Linked DNA regions of Homo sapiens: region 2 is linked to region 1. Evidence: fine-mapped QTL for protein levels in blood plasma. A gene starts in region 1. The other region holds a variant in brackets. All regions are shown on one strand. Distances are from middle to middle.

Region 1 (2,906 bases):
GTAATCTCAGCTACTCGGGAGGCTGAGGCACAAGAATCACTTCAGCCCAGAATGTGGAGGTTGCAGTGAGCCGAGATCGCACCACTGCACTCCAGCCTGGGCGACAAGAGTGAAACTCCGTCTCAAAATAATAAATAAATAAATAAAACCTTAAGTTTAATAACTACTGTATTAGTTTCCTAGGGCTGCTAGGAAATGTGTCTTCTCTCAGCACTGGAGGTCAGACACCTGAGACCAAATTTTCAGCAGAGCCATGTTCCCTTTGAAGATTCTGGGGAAAAGTCCTTCCTTGCCTTTTGCTAGCTTTTGGTGGCTGCCATCAATCCTTGGTGATTTTTGACGTGTCACTGCATCCCTCCCATCTCTGCCTTCGGCGTCACGCCACATCTTCCCCGTGCTTCTCTCTGTGTCCCTGTGTCTGAGTCTCCCTCACCATTCTCTTATAAAGATACCGGTCATTGGATTTAAAACCCCTGTCATCCAGTTCAACCTCATCTAACTAATCACATCTGCAAATCAGGTTCATTCTGCGGTTCGGGGTGCACATGGATTCTGGAGGGGGCACTGTTCAACCCACCACAAACACTCAGCTCTTACTCTATGCTGGGTACTGTCCTAGCGCATTGCAGGTGCTCACTCAACAATGCTAGGAGCTAGGAACTATTATTATCCCCATTTACAGATGAGGAAACCAAGGCACTGAAAGGTAAAGTGACTTGCCCAAGGTCACACAGCAGTGAGTGCCACTGTAGGCTGCCTGGCTCCCACGTCCATGGTCTCTACCACGCCTTTCCCAGCTACTCCACTCCCGGCTGAGGGATTCTGGGCAAGTCACTTCACTTCTTGGAGACTCAACTCCTCTGCCTGTAAAGGGGACAAATAGCACCTACTTCGTAAGCTTGTTGTGGGGATTTACTGGACACCTGTGGCACGTGTAAAGTGCCTGGTACACAGCCAGCACATAGCAGGTGCTCAGTGAACGGAAGCTCGTAACAGTCATCATTGTTAATGTCTCTATTATTTGCAAAGGCTAGGGCAAGCCTGGGGGCTGGAGAAGGAACTCTGGAGACAGGATACCTGGGTTCTGGTCTTGGCTCTGCCCATAGACTTCCCTGAGGTCTCTGGCAAGTCACTTCCTCTCCTTGGGCCTCAGTTTTTTCCTGTGAGAAATGGGCCCAATCAGGCTTGACCTGCTGGCTCACAGAGCTGTGAGGTCCAGATGGCATGACTCAGCAGAAAGGCCAGGTCGCTCCCCATCCTCGCATGCCCTCTGTGGGGGACTTTTGGGGGGCGGAGCCCAATCCTGGTGCTCCAGGGCCCTATTGTGCTTGGCCAATGCCTCTTCTGAAGCAGCCATCCCGGCCTCTTGGTACTGCTGACCCCAGCCAGGCTACAGGGATCGATTGGAGCTGTCCTTGGGGCTGTAATTGGCCCCAGCTGAGCAGGGCAAACACTGAGGTCAACTACAAGCCACAGGCCCCTTCCCCAGCCTCAGTTCACAGCTGCCCTGTTGCAGGGAGGCGGTGGCCCTTCTGTTGCTAGACCGAGCCTGTGGGATATACCAAGGCAGAGGAGCCCATAGCCATGAGGAGCCTCGGGGCCCTGCTCTTGCTGCTGAGCGCCTGCCTGGCGGTGAGCGCTGGCCCTGTGCCAACGCCGCCCGACAACATCCAAGTGCAGGAAAACTTCAATATCTCTCGGGTAAGGCTGCCGCTCTCTGTGGTAGGGTGGATGTGGTGATGGGGAGTCCAGGCAGATGGGCCCTGCTGGGCAAGTGCGGCCTGTCTCGGGGTCTCAGGCTTCCACTCAGATCATCTGGGATTATGGGATCCTTTGAAGGTACAGCTCTATCCCCTGCCATTCCGTGGGTCTCTTGGCTGACATTCTATGAGTCAAACATCCTCACCTTCTGCACTGTCCTCGTGGGCTCCAAGGGGAACCCTTGTGTTAATGGGAACCTGCTCCAGAGAAGGCTTTGTCCTGCCTGCCACTGCCCTGCAGCCCCCGTGCAGACACCTAGCTTTGCCCAGACCTCCCAGCCCTTCCTTCTCTAATGACTCCCCTCTCTCTGTGGCATCTTTCCCTTAGCTCTTCCTGTGTCCCCTGCCCACATCCTGGCCTGACTGTGGACAGACACCTGGGGTGGCACAGCGTGGGCATGTGGCCAGCAGCTTTTGGGTTGGGCATGTGGGGCTTATGGGAAGAGGTGAAGCAGGACAGAGATTAGGGTTGGGAGACATTCAGAGGCTTGGGCACAAGGAGAGACCTGGACTGGGGCAGGACACTCTCCTGTGAGTGTGGAGTGCCAGAGCTGCCTTCCAGCCCCCACTCTGCCCTAAATCCCGGGGTGGCTTTGAGAATACCCTTGCCCACCTGGGGCTGTCTCCATGTCTGTATGAAGGGTCTCAGAACCTTCTAGCTGTGGTGTCATGTGGGTTTTGTTTACTTTTAGGGACAAGGAAAGGTCGTGGCAGAGGGGCAATGAGGAGCAGGTCCCTGTGGCAGTCTGGGACGCAAAGGGTGTGGGGCACATTGGCCTGTTCCGTAGGAGCCTGAGGGCTCCTTCAGCTGTCCCGTGCACTTTCAGGAGGAAGAGGAAGCAGGCCTATCCTGAATGACCCCATCATGTTCATTATACTTTTGAAATAATTCCTAACATGGGGCTGTGGGCTGCCTTGCAAGGTGGGGAGCACCCCATCATTGGAGGAGTAAAAGACAGGACTCCAGCTCTTGGGGAGCAGTGGTTGATGGAGCTATGGACAGATCCCACATCTTGAGAGAGTTAGCCCTTCTGCAGGGCAGGTTGGGACCCCAGCCGCACACCTGCTTCCTGGGTTCGCTGTGATGCCTGAAACGCCACTCTTAGGGATCTGGCCTCCCTTGAAGGTGTGTGGCCTCTGATTAGT
Region 2 (2,888 bases), 250 kb before region 1:
AGCCCTAGAGTATGGCTGCCCAAGGCCAAGGTGGGTGCGGGGCTGCAGCAACATTAGTAAACGTGTGAGTCCACAGATTTCCTAGAGAGGCCTCCCGCAGAGGAATCTCATGTCTTCATTCAATTCCTATCCCTCTGAGTGCCAAGACTTACTTCAGTAGGACCCAGCCACAAACCTAATGATGAAGCACCTTTGAGGGTCCCCAGGCTGGCATGGGATGTATGTTGTGGCGGGGAGAGTTGGGGTGAAGGATGCCGGGTGAAGGCAAACATGGATTCAGTTCCACTGAGTGTGGCAACAGCTATGTCAGAGCCAAAGTTCATTGGGGCCCCAACCCAGCCCTGGACGCAGGCACATTTCCAAAAAGGGACATCCAAGTTGAATGTCTATTTCCAGTAAATATACTACTCGAAGCATCTCCCAACATCTCAAACAGGAAACTGTCTCCCTGTTTTTCCCCATTCCCTGCCATCTGAGCAGGCAGCTTGCTTCTCTTTCACCAATATGCCCCCAATCCTGGAGCAGTGCCCAGCACTTCAAGGGCACTCGGTGTATACTGTGGAATGAGTGATTCCGTGGCCCATTTGCGTTCCTACCTTATGGGTCAAGTCTTTATTTGTATGAATAAATACTTTCAGAAAGTATTCTTTTTTTTTTTTTTCTCGGAGATGGAGTTTCGCCATTTTGCTCTTGTTGCCCAGGCTGGAGTGCAATGGCTCGATCTTGGCTCACCACAACCTCCCCTGCTGGTTTCAAGCAATTCTCTTGCCTCAGCCTCCCGAGTCGCTGGGATTACAGGTATGTGCTACCACGCCTGGCTAATTTTGTATTTTTAGGAGAGATGGGGTTTCTCCACGTTGGTCAGGCTGGTCTC[G/A]AACTCCCTACCTCAGGTGATCCGCCCACCTCGGCCTCCCACAGTGCTGGGATTACAAGCATGAGCCACCGCGCCTGGCCTTCCAGAGCGCCTTTCAACAGTGAACAGCAGCTGCTGTTTAGGGAGCACCAGCTGGACCCTGATTCTTACGCTAAACACTGGGCATTGTCTACTTCACACAGTCCCTGTACTAGCTCTCAGGACCCTCACTCTGCCCCCTTTTTACTGATGAGGAGAGTGAGGTTCCACTGGGCCATCTGCCCAAACTGGTTTGGGAGAGAGCCTGGGTTTGGACTCACATTAGTTTGACTCCAAAGTCCACATTCTTTGTTATGTGTGTTTTTTGCTTCCTCTACCTCCATGATTCTTTTTCTCTTGACCTCTGGTTTCTTCCTCACGTGGCTTTTCCTTCCATGTTCCCCACTTCTCGTCTCCCTTGCTTCTCCCTGCCCTGCCCATCACGACTCATTTCTGTTTCATTTTTCAGCGGATCCTCCTCAGTATGGTTGAAAATGGTGTCTTACTGAAAGTAACATTGAAATGGGGAAACTTCTTTTAGGTTCTGAGCCTTCAGTTCCAGGCCACTGTGGGACCCCAGAGGCTGTCCTGTCCACTTGCCTTCTGAGGACATCAGCTCGGTGTCCCCAGCCTCCGTGCTGTGGGCACAGCAGTGGTTTGGGTGCTGAGCAAAGGATGCTGTAGTCTTGGCCCTGTGGAGCTTGGCTGTTGGGACAGGAGGTACAAAGGGGAGTGGTGCCTGAGGACACAGGACTGGACCCTGGGGTGTCAGAGCCTCAGGCTCATGGTCTTATCACCCTGTATGGTGTACGCAGCTGCACATACGGAATAGATGGAACAACTCAGGCCCAACTTTTCTGCCACGGGAGGAGTGCTGCTTCCCTCACGTAACAAGAGGCTGTCAATCATGAGCCCCCAGGTCTGGGTGAGGCCGGCCCTTCGTGGCTTGTGCCACTGAGTGGGCTGTGCCTCGGGCTTGGCTCCACCTCAGGGCTCCACATTTGCAAGATGTCAACTGATTTCCAGGGACCAGCCTCACCCTTACGTGTTGTCTCCTTCTTCTGGGTCTCCCAGGTGAGCACCCTGAGGACACGTCCATGGAGACACCCAGCCCCTCTGGCCTGGGCCCCAAGCCCTCTGCATCACCCCAGCCCTTCCCTGCCCTGCCCTGTCCTGGCCCAGGCAACCGCCTCTTGCCTAGTTGCCCACAGCAGCCTTCACTCAGGCCTTCCTGCCTCCAGCCTGGTCCCCACAACGTGCCTCCCCCGATGGCCATGGTAATACTGGAATAAGGTCCTTGTGATAGGCACCACATGCCTGAACTCTCCCCACCCCATCCACCTTGTATTTGTCTGTTCTCACATTGCTATAAAGAACTACCTGAGACTGGGTAGTTTATGAAAAAAAGAGGTTTAATTGACTCACAGTTCCGCAGGCTTCAGAGGAAGCATGGCTGGGAGGCCTCAGGAAACTTACAATCATGGTGGAAGGCAAAGAGGAAGCAAGTCCCTTCTTCACAAGACAGCAGGAGAGACAGAGCGAAGGGGGAGGTGCTACACACTTTTAAACAATGAGACCTTGTGAGAAACAGCACCTGGGAGGTGGGGCTAAACCATTAGAAACCAGCCCCGTGATACAATCACCTCCCAGCAGGACCCGCCTCCAACACATGGGGCTGAAAATTCCATGTGAGATTCGGGTGGGGACAGAGCCAAACAATATCACACCTCCACTCCTGTTTAGGGTCTTCTGCCTCAAGGTTACTCAAATGCATCCTCTCATTTCCTTGCTTGCAGCAGAAACAGAAAAGGATTTTTTTTTATGACTAGTTGAAGTTTTATTACAATCTTGCTATTAGGAGAAAGGCCTTACAGTAGTCTCAGTTTAGAAATTCACATTTGTTTGCTTGTATTGTTTTAAATGGACACATAATGTACATATTTATGGGGAACTGTGTGATAATGTTCCCAACACAAAGAAATGGTAAATGTTTGAG

Which allele goes with the higher level. Alleles are on the strand shown, and positions count from the first base shown. The strength of an association depends on the size of the effect and on how common the allele is.
In carriers of allele A in region 2, the plasma level of the protein whose gene starts at base 1,494 in region 1 tends to be lower than with G alone (moderate association).

Evidence for each region. PIP is the posterior inclusion probability: the model's chance that the variant is causal. The UK Biobank Pharma Proteomics Project read protein levels with antibody pairs (Olink). The fine-mapping took linkage between variants from a reference panel, not from the people measured, so its PIPs are less certain.
Region 2: its variant is fine-mapped to the plasma level of the AMBP protein (UK Biobank, PIP above 0.99).

What each region holds. Positions count from the first base shown.
Region 1 is chr9:114,076,888-114,079,793 of GRCh38, reverse strand. It overlaps AMBP (alpha-1-microglobulin/bikunin precursor), which reads left to right and starts at 1,494. Exons shown (of 10, transcript NM_001633.4): 1 at 1,494-1,701. The coding sequence starts at 1,585.
Region 2 is chr9:114,326,781-114,329,668 of GRCh38, reverse strand. No RefSeq gene overlaps it. Among named protein-coding and RNA genes, the nearest start is that of ORM2, 1.6 kb to the left of the region's middle. The variant G/A (reference allele first, on the strand shown) is at 875.